5 linked regions of the Homo sapiens genome follow. The protein of the gene in region 2 interacts with the protein of the main gene of each other region in a pairwise test. Each region holds a gene or a part of one and is shown on either strand. Other genes may lie near its edges. The genes, in order: XBP1, PCBD2, GTF2E1, AATF and CHAF1A.

Region 1 (3,510 bases), on a different chromosome or scaffold from region 2:
ACCTCAGGTGATCCACCTGCCTTGGCCTCCCAAAGTGTTAGGATTACAAGTGTGAGCCACCGAGCCTGGCCAAGATAGTTTAAAAAAAAAATTATATCTACATTAAAGCCACAAGTCACCCTTTGCTGAAGTCAGTATTAGTAGTTGGAAGCAGTGTGTTATTCTTGACCCCATGAAGTGGCACTTATTAAGTAGCTTGCTTTTCCATAATTATGGCCTAGCTTTTTAAAACCTACTATGAACACCACAAGCATAGAGTTTTCCAAAAGTTCAAGAAGGAAAGGAAACCAATTATACTGAATCAGGTAGATTCTTAACTGAAATAATTAGATGTTTTAATAGCCTCTTATGAACTTTCTTCCAGAACCAAAAACTTTTGCTAGAAAATCAGCTTTTACGAGAGAAAACTCATGGCCTTGTAGTTGAGAACCAGGAGTTAAGACAGCGCTTGGGGATGGATGCCCTGGTTGCTGAAGAGGAGGCGGAAGCCAAGGTAAATCATCTCCTTTATTTGGTGCCTCATGTGAGTACTGGTTCCAAGTGACATGACCCAGCGATTATGTTTACAGTCTGGACTTCTGATCAAGAGCGTTCTTGAAATTTTCCTTCAGTTTTAAGACATTTTCATGCAGGCAGAGTGTTCTTCCCCTAAAGGCACTTGACACTCATTTTTTAAGTGTGTAGTGAACAGTACTAAGATCTAATAATGAAAACAAGTTACATGGCTCCCTAAGAACAAGTACTAACAAATGCAGTAGCCAACAAGATTACCATGCAATCATTAAGGAGAACCAAAGTAAGAGAGCCACTCAAACCAGATTTTGAACGCTACTAAAATTAAAGTAGTTCTTTGATGAATATGAATGAGTAGGGAAAGGATTCTTTGTAATAGTGATACCTCTGTGGTAAGAGAAGGGTGGTATGTGAGTTTTAGTCTACAGATTATGGCAAATTCAGTGACAACAATCAAATGGTCTAAGATTGACAGTAGCACAGTTTTACTCTGTGAAGGTAATGTTCAGGACAAATTTCAAGAAAACTAGAAAACCATTCTTTACAGCTGAAATCTTTCCCTAACCATTGTTATTTCCACTTTTAAGTCCTCAAGAGATGAGAAAAGGGAGGTAAGGCTTCCTTATACATTTCCTGCACAATGAAACATTTTTCCTCCTCCAGGCAAAGATTCAAGCAGAACTGGCAAATATCTTATCTTGCTCTTCTCAATAATAATAATGTTGTTAGATAATAAAGTTCTATAGCAATTTAACCCTAGAATCTTTTTGAAAAGTAATTCTTTAAAGTTGAGAATCACAGCTGTCTAGCAAGCATTTCCTTGGGCACTTGAAGCTGTTTATTCACTTTGGTCTTTCCTCCCAGGGGAATGAAGTGAGGCCAGTGGCCGGGTCTGCTGAGTCCGCAGCACTCAGACTACGTGCACCTCTGCAGCAGGTGCAGGCCCAGTTGTCACCCCTCCAGAACATCTCCCCATGGATTCTGGCGGTATTGACTCTTCAGATTCAGAGGTAGGGATCATTCTGACTTATTAAAGAGCTATATAACCAGTTAATTCCATCTGTTTGATGCTTGACATCCCTAACTAGACAGATGAGGGTTGAAGTTAGTTTTTGGTGGGGTTGGAGGTGAACATCAACTACCTTCCTAGTTCCAGGTAATATAGAACATGGAGTGAAGTGTAGATAAATGGGTCTGGTGGGTCCCGAGGTCATCTTATCACATAATGACTAATTTACATTATGGAACCCAGTACAAAGTGTTCCAGTTAGATTTTCCATTGTATTCTGACAGTTGTACTTCATTTAATTTTTGCCTCTTACAGTCTGATATCCTGTTGGGCATTCTGGACAACTTGGACCCAGTCATGTTCTTCAAATGCCCTTCCCCAGAGCCTGCCAGCCTGGAGGAGCTCCCAGAGGTCTACCCAGAAGGACCCAGTTCCTTACCAGCCTCCCTTTCTCTGTCAGTGGGGACGTCATCAGCCAAGCTGGAAGCCATTAATGAACTAATTCGTTTTGACCACATATATACCAAGCCCCTAGTCTTAGAGATACCCTCTGAGACAGAGAGCCAAGCTAATGTGGTAGTGAAAATCGAGGAAGCACCTCTCAGCCCCTCAGAGAATGATCACCCTGAATTCATTGTCTCAGTGAAGGAAGAACCTGTAGAAGATGACCTCGTTCCGGAGCTGGGTATCTCAAATCTGCTTTCATCCAGCCACTGCCCAAAGCCATCTTCCTGCCTACTGGATGCTTACAGTGACTGTGGATACGGGGGTTCCCTTTCCCCATTCAGTGACATGTCCTCTCTGCTTGGTGTAAACCATTCTTGGGAGGACACTTTTGCCAATGAACTCTTTCCCCAGCTGATTAGTGTCTAAGGAATGATCCAATACTGTTGCCCTTTTCCTTGACTATTACACTGCCTGGAGGATAGCAGAGAAGCCTGTCTGTACTTCATTCAAAAAGCCAAAATAGAGAGTATACAGTCCTAGAGAATTCCTCTATTTGTTCAGATCTCATAGATGACCCCCAGGTATTGTCTTTTGACATCCAGCAGTCCAAGGTATTGAGACATATTACTGGAAGTAAGAAATATTACTATAATTGAGAACTACAGCTTTTAAGATTGTACTTTTATCTTAAAAGGGTGGTAGTTTTCCCTAAAATACTTATTATGTAAGGGTCATTAGACAAATGTCTTGAAGTAGACATGGAATTTATGAATGGTTCTTTATCATTTCTCTTCCCCCTTTTTGGCATCCTGGCTTGCCTCCAGTTTTAGGTCCTTTAGTTTGCTTCTGTAAGCAACGGGAACACCTGCTGAGGGGGCTCTTTCCCTCATGTATACTTCAAGTAAGATCAAGAATCTTTTGTGAAATTATAGAAATTTACTATGTAAATGCTTGATGGAATTTTTTCCTGCTAGTGTAGCTTCTGAAAGGTGCTTTCTCCATTTATTTAAAACTACCCATGCAATTAAAAGGTACAATGCAGCATCCTTGTTTGATTTCTTCTAGGGCCGTAAGTCTTGTTTTCTCTCCAGATGTTTATCTGTGTGCTGTGGTAGGAATTAATCCAACTGAAGTGAGCCTAACGCTTTTTAAAGTGACTGAAGGCTTTTCCACCTTAATTACTGCCTGCTTTAATTCTGGACTGCCATAAGTGATATAAGCTATAATTTGAGCAGTTACTGTCTTTCTGAGACAGATTCTTGAGCCTAACTGACCAATATCACAGCTAGTAAGTGGAAGAGCTAGAACCCTAACCACTATTTGCTACACCATCTTATAAATGTTAAACAAGGACACACCATCACATATCGAGATTCTCTTGCCCTTATTATGGGAATTAAGAGCATTTTCTAGACTGAAACTCCCTATTTTCAACTCTGCCACTGGTAAGCTGGGTAACCCAGGGGTTATATATAATCACTTATTTCCTCATCTGTAAAGTTGGATAATGGTATCTCTAAAGGTTAAGATTCAAAGAGACG
Region 2 (4,346 bases):
CAGGGAGTTCAAGGCTGCAGTGAGTCATGACCACACCACTGCACTCCAGCCTGGGCAACAGAATTAGACCCTGTCTCAAAAAAAAAAAAAAAAAAAAAAAAAAAATTAGAGGCCCATCAGGCTTTAATAGACATCCCCATACATCCTATTTGCATACATGCAGAACAATATTTAGAAGATAAATTTCTAGGTTAGGACAATGGATATGTCCTTTTTTTTCTTTTTTTGAGACACAGTCTCGCTTTGTCACCCAGGCTGGAGTGAAATGGTGTGATCTCGGCTCACTGCAACCTCCGCCTCCCAGGTTCAAGCGATTCTCCTCCCTCAGCCTCCTGAGTAGCTGGGATTACAGGCGCACGCCACCACGCCTGGTTAATTTTTGTATTTTTGGTAGAGACAGGGTTTCACCAGGTTGGTCAGGCTGGTCTCGAACTCCTGACTTCGTGATCCACCTACCTCAGCTTCCCAAAGTGCTGGGATTACAGATGTGAGCCACCGCGCCCGGCTCTGGTATGTGAGTTTTAAAAGTTGATAGGCATTGCTCAATTTCCCTTCAAAAAGATGATGTCAACTGGGTGCAGTGGCTCATGCCTGTAATCCCAACACTTTGGTAGGCCGAGGCGGGCAGATCACCTGAGGTCAGGAATTCAAGACCAGCCTGGCCAACATGGCAAAACCCCATCTCTACTATAAATACAAAAAATTAGCTGGGCATGATGGCGGGCGCCTGTAATCCCAGCTACTCTGGAGGCTGAGGCAGAAGAATCACTTGAATCTGGGAGGTGGAGGTTGCAGTGAGCCAAGATCGCACCATTGTACTCCAGACTGGGTGACAAGAGTGAAACTCCATCTGAAAAAAAAAAAAATAGATGATGTCAAATGACACTCTCAGCTCATCACTATCACCTCCCCATCACAACTGTACTTCCCTACCCTGCCGAGACTCCAAGGGCCAGCGTTTCTGTCCCTCCCTTTTTTCCCTTGTCCCTCTGTTCCTCCATTGCATTCATTTAGCAAAAGTTCAGTCCTTGTTAAGCCCAACTCTGCATCTACTCCAGCTTGTGCACAGCAGCGGAACACAGCAGGAAAAAAAACATACAAAATGTTCACTTTAAATGTTTGACCCCAAATCTGTAGTGACACTGAGAACTGCTTAGCAACCAGCCACGTTTCTCAAGTTTTTTCACTATCTTAGTCTCCAAAATGACTATTCCACTCCTTCTCTTATCTCCCCAGGTCTCCAACACTCTTCCCTTCCACCCCTACTTGCTCTCAATTGATGATCTCACTAAAAAACAAAAGCAATCAGGAGAGAATGGCCCTCTTTTTCCCAGGATGAATGTAACGGCCTATTGGCATCTAAACCACAATGGACATATCATCGCTGTGCCTCCACTGCCCATCTGATCCTGTCCTCTCCTGCCTAACTGGACCATGCTCTCACAGTGATCCCCTCTGACAACTCACAAACTGCTGTCTCAGCCTGAACTCCAGCCTCTTACACCCACCTCCTAACCCAATAACTCCATTTGGATGACTAATAAGTACCTCAAACCTGACATGTGAAAACAGGATTCTCACCTCCATACCCCTGCCCCCCACCTTGCACCCCATCTTCCACAGCTCAGTAAATGGCTCCAGTGGCACTACCCTTTACACTATAGCTTGAACCAAAACCTTGGTGCCATCCTTGACCCTCCCCTATCACACATCCAATCATTCAGCAAGTCTTGATTATTCTACTTTCAAAATATGTGGAACCCTACATTTCTCTCCATCCCCACTGATACCTCCATAAGACCCCCATCATCCCCGGTCTAGACATCTGCAACAGTGTTCTACAGAGTCTGCCTGCTTCCACTCTGACCTTCCTACCGCCTATTCTGAGCAGAACAGCCAGGGTGATTTTTTAGAACACAGCCACAGGATGACACTTCTCTGCCTGAAATCCTCCATTAGCTTTCCTTCACAGAATAAAATCCAAACTCCTCACCACGCCAAGAAGGCCCCCATGCTCTGACCCTTCCCCTCGTCTCCTCGCCTGCTCCACTCCACACTGGCCTTCTGCTTCTGGCTCAATCATGCCAAGGTCATTCTGCTTTGGAAACTCTGTGCTTGCTGTTCTCCAGCTGGAAAGCTCTTCCCTTGGATCACCATGTGCTGAGCTCCTTCACATTATTCAGGCCTCAGAGATCCCCTCCCCAGAGAGGACTTTCCAGACCACTCTACCTCCAAGAGTGCCTCTGTCCCCCTCCACTCCAATTCCCTACTTTATTCTTCAGGGTACTCATCACTAGCTGAAATTATATTTCCTATTCATCTGTTTATTGTTTATTTTCCCACTGGGATGGGAGCTGTATGAGCTTAGAGTAGCACCTAGCACACAGAAAATGCTTAATAAATCTTTGTTGAATTAATAAATATTTCATGATAAAATTTAAAAAATTTTTTTAAATGTAACCACATGTATAACTGGCATGCTCTGGCATACTTGGCAAACAAACATACCCATGGAGAAAGACCAGAAGAGAACAGAGAAAAATAAAAGTAGTTGCGATTGGAAATTTTTTTTACTTACACCATCCTATTTTAATGTTATGCTGTTGTTACAATAAAAAACAATGGCTTTTCTGTCCTAAATGAAAGATGAATGAGGACCCATCAGCGCCAGAGGGTCACTACTCTACTCACGAGTTGTGAGCAAGAGAAAACCAACTCCTGACACCTGGGCGCTGGCCTGGTACTATCAACCAGTCCTTGGTGCTCTCCTTTCGAACATCAACATCAACACCAGACAAGGCCACTCTGTGACCATGATGGATGAAGACAAAAACAAGACCACTCTGCAATACCTGAACACAGACAAAACATGAACATTGTCCAAGCCACAAAATACCAAACATCCTCCTCTCCCAGCTAATGAGTGACTATTGCTTCTTCTTCAGTTTCAGCTTTGGCACTGCTTTAATCTACTCTCCCTATAGATACGATTTATTAAAATACCAAATGACAGAGTTGCCCATTTCCTGACAGCATCTAATCCAGAGTAAAGTCCCCAAATCACTACCACAGCCCAAATCCTATATGGGCTCACCCCACGGTGCCCTTTGGTGTGCACTCTCCCTCACAGCAATAAGCAATAAGCTCAACTTGTTCGACTGTAGGTGTGTTCCTAGTTGTGTTTCGCTGGAGGGCACTGACAACTGTCAGGACACCAGTTACCATTACAGGCCATGGTACACGCAGAAGTCATAGGAGCCTAGTGGGAAAACTGACCCCCGGATATAATCTCAGTGTTGGTTCTCTGAATACATTCCCTGACATCAGCTGATTTTCTTGTCATCTGCCTCTTTTTCCTAAAAGTTGGGTGAATGGGAAAAAAAAAGTCTACTTAATTAAATGCCCCAGTGAATAATGTTACAATCAATCCAGTATGCTTCCCTACCATTGCTGAAAGTCACCCTGAGCGCAAGGTCAGAATGGTGCTGGAGGACTGAATCATAGGCAGGGCCTGAGGCAACACCATTCGAGTACTTTAAGCCACATGTTCAAGCCCAATAAATTAGGCCAGGTTTAAAGAAGTCAAGCTGTACATATGTAAGAATTTTAATAAGCTTGGAAAATGCTACCTAGAGCTTATGCACAGGCTTACTGTACCAATGGGATTCCCTGCCACCAGCCACAGCGTGCTAAGCCCCTAACAAGAGCTGTTGAGCACGTGGGGCAGCGGGGACAGGGAGTCTGCTTGGTCCAGGTTTCCTTAGGAGTTGGAGACTCACAGCAGAGGCTGGCAGCCAGATGGATAGAGAACAGAATCGGGCATGCAGCTCAGTGGAGCCAATGACATTTACTAGGAAAACATGCCGAAGGTTTCTTTGGTGCAAATCTGGTCCTCACACACCCTTCTAGAAACTAGCAAACACTGTAATCAATGTCTGCATTTATCAAATGCCTGTTTGTACCCAGAACTGTGTTGGGTACAATAGAGAGTTATTTAAGCAAACATGGTCTCTGACTTCTAGATGCCGACACCCAATATAAATAAAAACAATAAATCTGTCCAAAGGATTACCAAACTAACTGAACAAACAAAATAGTCAAAAGCATTTACCTTTTACAAATGCAGTGGTGTAATAACTGAAGGTTAAGTCATGGGAGATGACTCTCTAAACAGGGTGGGTCCCTAATGGAACAGTTACCTTGTTAAAGCTGACTTCCAAGGGGGAGGTCAGGTTTTAAGAAAAGGTTCAGGATCTGGCTACTGGGCTGGAGAAAAATAAGCCAGTCAGGGAAAAGGGTGCAGCCTGGGAGATGACTGAGAGATAGAAATTTAACTGCAGGAAGAA
Region 3 (4,346 bases), on a different chromosome or scaffold from region 2:
TTCTCGTTTATGCACAGCCACAGCTGCCGGACGGGGTGGAGAATCATCATCTGACTCACTGGTCTCGCTTTCTGAGTCACTGCCATTGGCAGCGGTCACTGGAGCAGCTGCCCCCACTGAACCAGCCATGGCAGAGGAAGTCTTTTTCTCGTGAATGAGCAGTGCTCGCATGACCTCTTCGTTGTCATCAGGCCCAGCATGGCCTTCCTCACGCTCCTGAAATGCGTCCATATCTATGCCCCCTGGGGAGTAAAACTCAGAAAGTCAATATCCTTAAATATAAATGGCATTTCTTTATAGCATATAGACAATATTTTAACATATATTTAAATAATACGATAAAATAACAGACTTCACTGGTTCCATTTTTGAGCTGCTATCCATAAAATATTCAAAATATTTCTTACAAACTGGAGCTTAAGTAGCATAATGGTCAAGTACATTGGCTTTAAGAGTATTATAGCATAGATTTGAATCCTGGTTCTTCTACACACAAGCATCTTGGGCAAGTTATTTAATCTCTAAACTTCAATACCTTTTTCTGTAAAATGAGGTGATAAAAGCATCTACTTTCTAAGGTTCTGAATAAAAACATATAAGATAATGTCTATGAAGAATCGACTAGAGTAGCTGGCATAACAGAAAATCAAAACATGGCTCTTTATCTCACTCAAGGTAAAAGCCAAAAGCTTTGCAATGGCCTATAGGGTCCCACATCATCTGGAATCCTTCCTGATCATCTACCTCTTACTTCTTTCCCCTGCTCATTCTTGTCTAGCCACAGTAGCCTCCATGGTATTCCTTGTACATATCAGACACACTCCTACCTCAGGGCCTTTGCATTACCTGTTCCCTCTGCCTGGAATATTTTTCCTTTAGGTACTCACACAGCTAACTCCCTTCCATCTTTCATGTCTTTATTCAAATGTTACCTTTTAAATGTATCCTATCCCTACATTCCCAATGCTCTATTTTTCCCCCATAGCACTTATTTCCTAACATAATGAATAACTTACATCTATTGTCTTTGTCACCCCCTTTCCAAGGATGTAGGTTCTACCACAACAGATATTTATCTTGTTTATTCATGGATATATCCCATTTACCTAAATAGTACCTGCCACTCTGTTAGGCACTGAATAAACATCTGACAAATGAGTGAATAAATGTGAGTTTTATTTTCATGAAGCAAACTAAGCATACTTAAAACTCTTTATAAAAAAAGAATCTAATTTTAGGAATGAAGCTTCTCTCACCACACACCTCCTATCATTTTGTGTACATATCTTACCTGATATACTGCAGATGAAATATTTAAGAAAACCATCTGCATTCTGCATTCTGATACTACTACCAAACATACTGCCATTTAAAATACATAAAAAGATTAAAAGTATTGTTTGGAACCTGACTCCCTGATTCAAATCCTAACACTATTTAGCTGTATGATTCTGGCCAAGTTATTTCATCTCTCCGCTTCAATTTTCTCAAGTACAGAAAGGGGGAAAATAGTATTTACTTCACTAGATTACTGTGGGGATTAAGTGAATGTCTGTGAAGTGTCTAGAATGGGCCTGGCACTTAGAATAGTGTTATCTATCATCATCGTCATCAAGAGAAGACTCAGAAATGGTCAATTCTGACTATGGATAAAGTGAAAGCATCTTCTCATTAACACATTAAAATGAATTAGCTAAATCCCTGGACATTTTAGAAGGCACAGAACTCCTAAAATGAGATACTGAGCAGATAAGAGAGAGAAAGGGAAACAGAAGCAGACAAGTTAAAAGTTTAGGTCAGAGAAAAGAGGCTTTTGATAACATGACTGTCAAAATGAGAGTTAAAATCAAACTTAACTACTTCAAAATATTGTCAAAGGCTGAACCTCCTCCTTAGAGCTTACTGCCAATGCAGCACTACAACAGAAAGAAAAGAAGGTAAGGAATGCATGCAAGCCTTTAAGACAATAATTGCTTCTAAAAGAATGTTCCAAATAGTTTAATAATATCAACACAGTATTTTGATTAATGTTTAAGTATTAAATTAGGGAAAAAGAAAATTAGTTTTGTAAACTAAATTAAGTCACACGTAACAGATTTCTGACAAGGGTCTTGAGAGGTTTGGAGAAAAAAGAATTATTCTGTTACAGATGAAGACAGAAAACAAAAAACAAGGATAAATGAGCAAATTTCTGGATGGTAAAGTAGAAACAGTGGTTCTAGGAACAGCCTTTTTCAACAGAGTTATAAATTACAAAGAAGATGTATACTGGGAAACTATATTCACGGAATTGATGCTAAGCAATTGTGGGTACTGAAAGGCCAAGTTGCAGCAAAAAAATATAGGAAGAGCTGAAGGTTGTATACGTGGGCAGAAAAGTAGCAGATCTATTTCTATTTCAGCAAGTGCAAGAAAATCAGCCTGCAGAAAAATAATCTAAAATATACTGAAAGATATGATCCAAGCTATTGGATTCAAGGCACAGAAGAACCTAAAAAGTACCTCTACGTGTTTCTAGAAGTTTTTGGTCTTAACATGCTTCCAGAACCAAAGCAACAAACAAAATCTCAAGTAAAAACCAGAAAGATACTGGAAATAAAACTCAAATCAATGGTGAATCCATGCATGAACAACATGTATCATTCTGGTCACTATGTCTCAAGTAAAGTATATTACAATTAGAGATGGTCCAGAAAAAGACAAAAATAAACAAAAACTGTAGGAGGTGGCAGCAGTGGAAAAGAGAACTGTTTAAGGAAAACAGAATCAAAAGGAATTAGAACTTTCTTCAGTATAGTAATGAGAACATGATTGAAGTCGATACAATTGTGAAAGATATCAACATGACTTGAAGTTTGAGGAAAATCAAGTGTTAAGACCCACTTCATACATTCACTGGATAGAGTCTGCTCTACTATCAAGAAACTTAGGATAAATTCAGACATGACAACATACTATCCTATTTTATGCAGAAATAAATATTTACAAAACTTAAGTAGACCAGATAACTTATTTAAGGCCCATATGATTCATATTCTATCATTTTAGGAACTGTAAACTAGAATGTTAAACTTATGAGCTTAATATATAATGTTGGTTAATAATAATTTTATTTTATTCAGTTTTCTTCCTAAGTTCAAAGAAAAGAAGGCTGCTTTAAGAACAGGCAAGAAGCCAAGTTGGGGAAAACAAATTTATTAAGTAGTAGTATAGCCTAACTACTGTATAATCTAAAACAACTTCAATCTAAATAACACAACAGGCTGGGCACAGTGGCTCATGCCTGTAATCCCAGCACTTTGGGAGGCCGAGGCAGGCAGATCACTTGAGGTCAGGAGTTTGAGACCAGCCTGGACAACATGGCAAAACCCCGTCTCTACTAAAAATACAAAAATTAGCTGGCCATGGTGGCTTGCGCCCAATTCCAGCTACTCAGGAGGCTGAGGCAAGAGAATCACTTGAACACGGAAAGCAGAGGTTTCAGTGAGCCAAGATCGCACCACTGTACTCCAACCTAGGCAACAGAGCGAGACTCCGTCAAAAAAACTAACATGGCAGGCTAATCAGTGAGGAAGAAGGAGGGTAAAGTATGGTTGCCTTGGAAAACCTTTTCTTATTAAAATTAATATATCAAAGAGAATCACAGTAGAGGTATTAGCTGCTTTACCATCACTACCAAACTCCACGTTACCTTCACAATTTCTAGTATATACATATACTAAATGCTAATTATGAAGGGAAAAGAGGCTAGGAGAAACGCCAAAAAACAAGTGGTTTTCAGCTACTGATTATTCTTTGGCACTAACATATCACCAAACTCACGTGATATGTTAGTAATGATATATTAACTTGGGAGTAGCGGCACATTGATTGTTACACTGATAAAATTCAGCAAGAAATAGAGACACCCTTCCTCTCTACTTTCCAGCTTGAGTCATCGTCATCCATTTTTGCCTCCCATTTTCTACATACTCCTAAACCATCATCACTCAAAGTCTTGAATGCAGTAACTTAGACTAAAACTTAGAAAGTAAAATCTTGCAGTTCTCTAACTTCCGAAGATTAGTATGCAATTCTTAACCCTTTATGCCTCAGAAATTTCCAAAATCCTCTAGAACAAAGTTCTGCTAACCGTCTTGGACTGTGAGAATGCTCAATCCTTTATTCATGTGGTCTCTTTGTATCTATTTCAGGTAGCATACACTCCTTGGTATTTATGAAGAGAAAACATAAAGTTTGGGGTAGCGTATAGTTTTGGCTCCCAATTCAGAAAAATTAAATGCATATAAGTCAGGGTAATATAAGATTAAAGGAAAGGTGAGTATGGCTACCTTGAAAACAACAGA
Region 4 (4,346 bases), on a different chromosome or scaffold from region 2:
TCTCCCACCTCAGCCTCCTGAGTAGATGGGATTACAGGAACCCACCATCATGCCTGGCTAATTTTTGTACTTTTGTAGAGACGGTGTTTCATTATGTTGGCCAGGCTGGTCTTGAACTCCGGACCTCAGGTGATCTGCCCACCTTGGCCTCCCAAAGTGCTGGGATTACAGGCATGAGCCACCACACCCAGTCTGTATGTTTGTTTTTTTTGAGACGGAGTTTTGCTCGTTGCCCAGGCTGGAGTGCAGTGGCGCAATCTCGCCTCACTGCGACCTCCACCTCCCGAGTTTAAGAGATTTTCCTGTTTGGCCTCCTGAATAGCTGGAATTACAGGTGCCCGCCACCACACCCAGCTAATTTTTTGTATTTTCAGTAGAGACGGGGTTTCATAATGTTGGTCAGGTTGGCCTCGAACTCCTGACCTCAGGTGATCCACCTGTCTTGGCCTCCCAAAGTGCTAGGATTACAGGCATGAGCCACCACACCAGGCCAGTTATGTTTATTAAGAAATTACTGTTAATGTTTTTACATGAGATTATGGTATAATTTTTTAAAATCCTTATCTTTTGAACATACATGCTGAAAATTTTACTGATGAGAGAATGTGTATTATTTGCTTCAAAATAATCCAGAAGGTGAGCAGAGTTGGTACAACTACAGATGAAATAAGATTGACCATGAATTGATTATTGCTTAAGCTGGTGAAGGCATGTGGGGGTTCACTGTGCTATTTCTCTACTTTTATATAAGTTTGATATATCCCATAATGAAAAGTTTTAAATAACTCATGGTGAGATTTCCTTAAGTAACTTCCCTTCTTCCTTACATATCATTGCCACCAACATAAAAGATGTATTTCCTAATACAGTAGAAATTCTAAAAGAGAGAAGGCCAGGCACAGTGGCTCATACCTGTAAGCCCAGCACTTTGAGAGGCCAAGGTGGGTGGATCACAAGATCAGGAGTTTAGGACCAGCCTGGCCAACATGGTGAAACCCCATCTCTACTAAAAAAAATTACAAAAATTAGCCGGGTGTGGTGGCATGCGCCTGTAGTCCCAGCTACCCAGGAGGCAGAGACAGGAGAATCGCTTGAACCTGGGAGGCAGAAGTTGCAGTGAGTTGAGATCGCACCACTGCACTCCAGCCTGGGTGACAGAGAGAGACTCCATCTCAAAAAAAAAAGAAAAAAAAGAAAGAGAGAAAAAGCAAACCCTTTTAGAGAAATGGTTTTGTGCACAGAAAATCCCTTAATTTTGTTAAGATTACTCCATGACTTACCACTTATGCAGCCACTAAAATATCAGACGATGTCTTTGAAATCACTTCCACAGTTCAAGTTTAAATTACCAACATGTAACACCAAGGTGACTGGGGACTAAGTTTACGTGTTTGGGGTGGTGTGTGGAGAGGAAGGAGATATTCATTTAGTTTCTGAAAAGTAGAGTTTAGGGTGCTGAAGCTACAAAGGCATGGTACTCAGGAGTTTACTGGAGCTAGAATACAGCTGGAAGTCTGTTATTTTAGAGGCAATAGTTAGGGTTATCAGAGTAAGTGACAGTGCCAAGGAGAGACTATATTGAGAAAACGCAACCTGAGGACAGGATTCTAAACGGAATGAAATTTACATTGAGAGGATACAAAAGGAACCAGAGAAGAGATCAGAAAGGTAGGAGAACCCAAACAGCACAGGTAGTGTCACCAAGCCAAAGAAAAGTATTTCAAGGAAAAGTTAAACGCTTCAAGGAGGTAGTAGCTGGGTATAGCAATAAGGAAATCTGTAGCCATCTTTCCATAGCGTCGTAAGAGGCCAACACTGCATTGTAAGTATTAGTAAACTATAACACTTTCCAGAACAATTAGTTAATTTAAATTATATAAAGAATCCAAATACTAATAAAAAAGTAAAAAACACTGAAGACTAGTGAGGCTCAGTTACACTGATAACTATTGAGTGATTGCTCACATGGTCGAACACTGCCAAATGCCTCTTTGAGCAGAAAAAGATAATATTAGTACCTAACATTCATGGTGAGATGTGTGCCAGACACTGTGCTAATGCTTTCTATTGATTATGTCCTTTAATCCTCACAACCATATTATCCCCATTTTACTGTGAAGTTAAGTAACTTGCCCAAGGTCACATGGCTAATCCATTGCTGAGATGAAATCTAAACCAAGCCGGTCTGACTTTAACTACTCTGTAAGACCAAGCAAATTGAAAAGAGATTTAATTAAAGACAGTAAGTTCCAGTGGTTGTTCTGGGGTTGGTACAAATTCAGCCTATGTTCCACACCAGCTATACAGCACAGTAATAAATTGGTCATCCAGAGTAATGTGCTCAAGAATTTTCTCTCTCTCTCTCTTTTTTTTTTCGGGGGGGACAGTTTCGCTCTTGTCGCTCAGGCTAGAGTGCACTAGCACGATCTCAGCTCACTACAACCTTTGCTCCCGGGTTCAAGTGATTCTCCTGCCTCAACCTCCCAAGTAGCTGGGACTACAAGTGTGTACCACCATACCTGGCTAATATTTTTATTTTTATTAAAGATGGGATTTCACCACGTTGGCTAGGCTGGTCTCAAACTCTTGACCTAAAGTGATCCGCCTGCCTCAGCCTCCCAAAGTGCTGGGATTATAAGCGGGAGCCACCGTGCCCGGCCAAGAACTTTTTTTTTTTTTTTGAGACGGAGTTTCACTCTTGTTGCCCAGGCTGGAGTGCAATGGCACAATCTTGGCTCGCTGCAGCCTCCGCCTCACAGGTTCAAGCAATTCTCCTGCCTCAGCCTCCCGAGTAGCTGAGATTACAGGCACCTGCCACCACACTTGGCTAATTTTTGTATTTTCAGTAGAGACGGGGTTTCACCACATTGGCCAGGCTGGGCTCAAACTTCTGACCTCAGGTGATCAGCCCACCTCGGCCTCCCAAAGTGCTGGCATTACAGGCGTGAGCCACTGCACCCGGCCAAGAATTTTTTTCTTAAAGTCTGTTTATCAAGACAGGGGAGTATACAACATATTATGTCATATTGCCACAAGAAAAATTAGCTACTCTTCAAATGCACAGCTCATTACTTGAAAACTCCCTACCCTCCCACCTTAGAATATGTGATACCAAACTTCCTTTCTTCTCCCTCCTCCACCACAACCCACCCTGTCAGATTAATAGATGCTGTCAGATTAATTGAGGTTCATCAATGAGGTAAAGGCAATTGGTTAAGTACAAAAAAGAGTAAAAAGATCAGAACAAAATAAAAGTTAAATAACACTGCAGTGATTAAAGACACTAAATGAGTTGAGTATGGTGGCTCACACCTGTAATCCCAGCATTTTGGGGAGGCTGACACGGAAGGATCATTTGAAACCAGGAGTTTTGAGACCAGCCTGGTCAACATAGTGAGACCCTATTTCCACAAAAAAAGAAAAAATTAGTCGGGCATGGTGGCTCATGCCTGTAGTACCAGCTACTCAGGAGGCTGAGGCGGGAAGATCACTTGAACCCAAGAGTTCGAAGCTGCAACGAGCTATGATCACGCTACTGCACTCCAGCCTGGGCAACAGAGCAAGACCCTGTCTCATAACAAAAAGAAATTAAATCGTATCCAAGAATATGTGTCCATTATACTGGACACTGACTAACCCCTAAAATATCTATATTTAAATATGAATTTTTTAAAATGAAAAAGGCTCAAGCAAAAAGAATAATGAGTAACAAAATGAAAACAGGCCTTATCGTGAAACATTTAAAACATTTAATCTAGAGCAGTCTAGGTCTCATTCCAAAGGCATACCAGGAATTAGGGTACTAGGACACTAAAAATAGCAGAGAAGTGCTCCAAAAATCTCAAAAAACTTGAAAACCATCAATCTGTCATCTATTTGAGAGAGAAAGGAGGCAAAGACAGGGGCGGGGATATAAATGGCCCACCTCACCCACACAGGCCACGTAAGGCTCCTGGGAAGGACTGCCCAGACTTCCCACAGGGGAAGAAGCAGACTTTAAGTGTGGCGGGACACAAAACCCAAAAACTGGACTCTAGGAAGCCATTCCTAATTACATCAGGTATTCACCTACAAGAAACGTTCACTGAACTCCCTACCTGGGAAATCCTACACATTGATCTTGAATGTCTTAAGGCGGTTCTACCTACAGGCAGATGCCAAATTAGATATCCTCCTCAGGTCCCTTCCAACTCTAACTCCATGATACTAAAAAAATAAGTTTTAAAGAGCAAATGAAAACATGAAGTCTCAGCATGCAAGTAAGACATATTGATCTCAGCTGAGCGCAGAGGCTCATGCCTGTAATCCCAACACTTTGGGAGGCCAAGGCCTCCCAAATATATATA
Region 5 (4,104 bases), on a different chromosome or scaffold from region 2:
AGTCTATGGCCTGACCGTTGTGTTGCTGTGCGGTCACTTTTCTAGGTTTTTGTAGAGGAAGAATTCCTGGAATTTTTTGAGGACTATCCTCCCTACTGAAATAAGTGTGGCTGTCTGTCCTGGGATGGGCTTGTGTTCATGCACAGAGAGGGTAAGCACTGACGTGGAGGCTCATGGTGGCCTCTACGCATCCTGTCTTTCTCCTTTGGTGAAAGCAAATGGAAACAGCTCAGGAATCTTACTAGGGTCAGGTGCGGTGGCTCACACCTTGTCATCCCAGCACTTTAGGAGGCCGAGGTGGAAGGATGGCTTGAGCCCAGGTTGAGACCAGCCTGGGCAACATAGTGACACCCCCTTGTCTCTACTTAAAAAAAAAAAAATTAGCTGGGCGTGATGGCGGGTGCCTGTAGTCCCATCTTCTCAGGAGGCTGAGGCAGGAGAATGGTGTGAACCCAGGAAGTGGAATTTGCAGTGAGTCGAGGTCTAAAAAAATAATAATAATAATTCACAAGTCACAGTCATCACTTCACATCAGGGACGTGTTCTGAGAGGTGTCCTCAGGCAATTTCATGGTTGGGTGGGGCTAGGTTGCTCTTACACATCCTAGATGGACAGCCTGCCACACGCCTGGGCCGTGTGGTACATAGCCCAGGGCTCCTGAGCTGTGGACCTGTGCAGCAGGTGACTGACTGCTCCATCCTGCAGGCACTTGTAACCCAGTGGTATATGTGTCTTTAACATAGAAAAGGCACAGCAGAGGCCAGGTGCGGTGGCTCATGCCTGTAATCCCAGCACTTTGGGAGGCTGACGTGGGCGAATCCTGAGGTCAGGAGTTCGAGACCAGCCTGGCCAACATGGCGAAACCCCCGTCTGTACTAAAAATACAAAAGATTAGCTGGGCGTAGTGGCGGGCACCTGTTAAAAAAAAAAAAAAAGGCACAGCAAAAATATCGTTGCGGCTGGGGCAGTGGCTCACGCCTGTAATCCCAGCACTTTGGGAGGCCAAGGCAGGCGGATCACTTCAGGTCAAGAGTTCGAGACCAGCCTGGCAACATGGTGAAACCCCATCTCTACTAAAAATACAAAAATTAGCCGGGTGTGGTGGCAGGTGGCTGTAATCCCAGCTACTCAGGAGGCCGAGGCAGGAGAATCACTTGAACCTGGGAGTCAGAAGTTGCAGTGAGCCAAGATCGCACCACTGCACTCCAGCCTGGATATATGGCAAGACTCTGTCTCAAGATTTATATATATTAAATAAAAATACAGTTGTCTGTAATCCCAGGACTTTGGGAGGCTGAGGTGGGTAGATCATAAGGTCAGGAGTTTGAGACCAGCTTGACCAACATGGTGAAACCCCGTCTCTACTAAAAATACAAAAATTAGCTGGGCGTGATGGCATACACCTGTAATCCCAGCTACTCAGGAGGCTGAAGAACGAGAATCGCTTGAACCCGGGTGGCGGAGGTTGCAGTGAGCTGAGATTGTGCCACTGCACTCCAGCCTCAGTGACAGAGTGAAACTCCCGTCTCAAAAATAAAAAATAAAGGCCAGGCATGGTGGCTCACACCTGTAATCCCAGCACTTTGGGAGGCTGAGGCGGGCGGATCACGAGGTCAGGAGATCAAGACCATCCGGATAACACGATGAAACCCCGTCTCTACTAAAAATACAAACTGGGCGTGGTGTCAGGCGCCTGTAGTCCCAGCTACTCAGGAGGCTGAGGCAGGAGAATGGCGTGAATCCGGGAGGCGGAGCTTGCAGTGAGTCGAGATCGCGCCACTGCACTCCAGCCTGGGCAACAGAGCGAGACTCCGTCTCAAAAAAAAATAAAAATAAATAAATACAGTTGTAATCTGATGGGGCCACTATCAGGTATGCGGCCTGTCACTGACTGGAAATTATTCTGCAGTTGGCAATGATGGCTGTTTTTGGAGATCTGAATCCAGTTCATTTGAGGGAACCCCCAAGGTTCTCTGGTTGTGGCCTCTTGAATAAACCTCTCACATTTGGACAGTTTGTTACCAAATTGGGTTCTGGATGTTGGTTTCCTTCCGTGTTGGGGGTGGGAGGAAGGTGTCACACCTGTGGAGTTCCCCCCGCTACCGCACTGGCACCAGGGTGGCTGCTGCCTGCAGTGCTGATGGCCGTGTACCCTGTCTGTCCAGATTGGTGCTGAAGACATGGACGGCTTCCAGGCAGACACGGAGGAGGAGGAAGAGGAGGAGGGCGACTGTATGATCGTGGATGTCCCGGATGCTGCGGGTGAGAAGGGCTGTAGATAGCAGAACGCACTGGTGAGGTGGGCGCTGGAGGTAAACCTCAACAGAGAAGGGATGGGGCTGCCTAAGACTAGCTCCACTGTGAGCAGCCAGGAGGGCTTGCAGCTGGAAGTGGCTCCTGCCCTGCCACATCCTCGGGCGGGCTGGGCCGTGGGTGCTGACCATGCCAGGCATCGTTCTGGCCGCAGAGCCACAAGGGCCTATGCTGGGAGTCTCAGGTGGTTGTGACGTTAGATGGGGGTCAGGGAAGGCTGCACTGAGGCAGCAAGGGAGGGCCAGGTGGATTTCTGGAGCACTCGCCAAAGAGGAAGTACAGAGGCCCTGCAGCAGGCTGCGTGGGAGGAGTGTGCCCGGGTGGTGGGGGGCAGGCAGGGTCAACCTGAGAGCAGGTGAGCAGGTCACCTCTAGAAGAGGCACAACGCCCCAGCCTCTGCCTGTCCCCACTGTCAGGTGGAGGGTCCCGCCCTGGGGTTGTTGCAGGCCCCATGAGGCAGCAGGGTGGGGTCTTCCCCCAGGGAGCCCAGAGGGCCCAGCCAGCTCAAGACCCTCCCTCTCTTGCCCTGCAGAGGTCCAAGCCCCGTGTGGAGCCGCTTCCGGAGCTGGGGGTGGTGTGGGGGTGGACACCGGCAAGGCCACCCTGACCGCGAGCCCACTGGGTGCATCCTGAGAGCAGGGGTGACGTATGTAGAATGCTTAGGGTGTCCTCCCCACAGAGCAGATACTTGAACCGACTCAATTCCTGTGTAAAGAGCACTTTGTCCTGCTTCACGGACCTCCCCAAAGTGTGCAGAGTTCTATATAGGATGCTGGATTAGTTCCTTTGATATTTGTAAAAATTCCCCCAAGAGCCGCATATGAATCTGCCCTTTAATAAAGCATTATTGAGATTGCTGGCCTATTGGGGAAGCCTGCGGGCACAGGAGCAGGCGTGGAATCCAATACTTGTAAATGAATTGAAGCGTCAGGACCACCCGCCTGGCCACGTGCGCGGGCCCCTGGACCTAACGAGGCAGTGTATAAACTTATTCTCTAGCCCTGAGCTGCTCTGTCTGTCTTTTCCGAAAACATTGTGTTTCTCTGAGAGTGCACCTTGCCCATGGCCCGGCCCCATGTGGTGCCTGGTGTCTGGGGCCAGCCTTGTGCCCTGCAACAGCACCGTCCCATCTGTTTGTCACTAAGTCACCCTCATACCAGGCTGACCTGGGTCAAGGTGCGGGTTTTTCCGCACGTGCTTCTGTCCGGCGATCCCTCCTGCCCTGGGTTGGGGGGTTAGGAGAGGGTGTTCCCAGAGACCTGCTAGGGTCACCTCCCTGAACCCGGAGCTGCTGGGAGCCGAGTTTGGCTTCGAGTCTGAGGCTTTGTGAGAGCCCACCCCAGGTCAGGTGCATCTTTTGCGAGTGCTGGAGCTAGAAGGTGACCTCCTCCCCGCCCCAGGTTGAGTGGGCTTTATCCACACTGTCCGAGGGAGGACAGGCGACAGCCGCTGTGGTACTGAGCAGCTCAGAGCACACGCAGCCACGGGGAGGGTCACGCTCGCCAGTCCTGCTCTTCCCAGCCACACCCCACCTGAAGTCCTAAGCTTCCCTTCAGGGAACCCTATGTGGGAAAAGTGTCAGCTACCTCCATCCACCCAGTCAGGGACGGCAGGGCGCCCGGGCCAGGCCTTCCTGCTGGGAAGCAGGATTCAGCTGTGCCTGAAGCAGAGGCTGCCCCTGTGCCACACCTTTGATGAGCTTTACAGGGGCTCCCGACAACCCGGAATCAGGTCCTGGGGCCTGCAGGACGCAGGACTGGAGTGACAGCCTCCATTCTCAACAGGCCGGGT

What was found.
Region 1: the proteins of PCBD2 (region 2) and XBP1 interact in a two-hybrid assay, tested with the Homo sapiens proteins (one large-scale study listed by BioGRID and IntAct).
Region 3: the proteins of PCBD2 (region 2) and GTF2E1 interact in a two-hybrid assay, tested with the Homo sapiens proteins (one large-scale study listed by BioGRID and IntAct).
Region 4: the proteins of PCBD2 (region 2) and AATF interact in a two-hybrid assay, tested with the Homo sapiens proteins (one large-scale study listed by BioGRID and IntAct).
Region 5: the proteins of PCBD2 (region 2) and CHAF1A interact in a two-hybrid assay, tested with the Homo sapiens proteins (one large-scale study listed by BioGRID and IntAct).

The regions. Positions count from the first base shown.
Region 1 is NC_000022.11:28,794,060-28,797,569, reverse strand, and holds the end of XBP1 (X-box-binding protein 1), read left to right. Parts: intron 1-364; coding exon 365-493; intron 494-1,377; coding exon 1,378-1,416; coding exon of another isoform or gene 1,417-1,442; coding exon 1,443-1,523; intron 1,524-1,837; coding exon 1,838-2,395; 3' UTR 2,396-3,010; downstream 3,011-3,510. UniProt on the Homo sapiens protein: Functions as a transcription factor during endoplasmic reticulum (ER) stress by regulating the unfolded protein response (UPR).
Region 2 is NC_000005.10:134,911,196-134,915,541, reverse strand, and holds part of PCBD2 (pterin-4-alpha-carbinolamine dehydratase 2), read right to left. Parts: intron 1-4,346.
Region 3 is NC_000003.12:120,776,939-120,781,284, reverse strand, and holds part of GTF2E1 (general transcription factor IIE subunit 1), read right to left. Parts: intron 243-4,346; coding exon 1-242.
Region 4 is NC_000017.11:36,955,009-36,959,354, reverse strand, and holds part of AATF (protein AATF), read right to left. Parts: intron 1-4,346. UniProt on the Homo sapiens protein: Part of the small subunit (SSU) processome, first precursor of the small eukaryotic ribosomal subunit.
Region 5 is NC_000019.10:4,440,080-4,444,183, forward strand, and holds the end of CHAF1A (chromatin assembly factor 1 subunit A), read left to right. Parts: intron 1-2,165; coding exon 2,166-2,262; intron 2,263-2,845; coding exon 2,846-2,946; 3' UTR 2,947-3,318; downstream 3,319-4,104. UniProt on the Homo sapiens protein: Acts as a component of the histone chaperone complex chromatin assembly factor 1 (CAF-1), which assembles histone octamers onto DNA during replication and repair.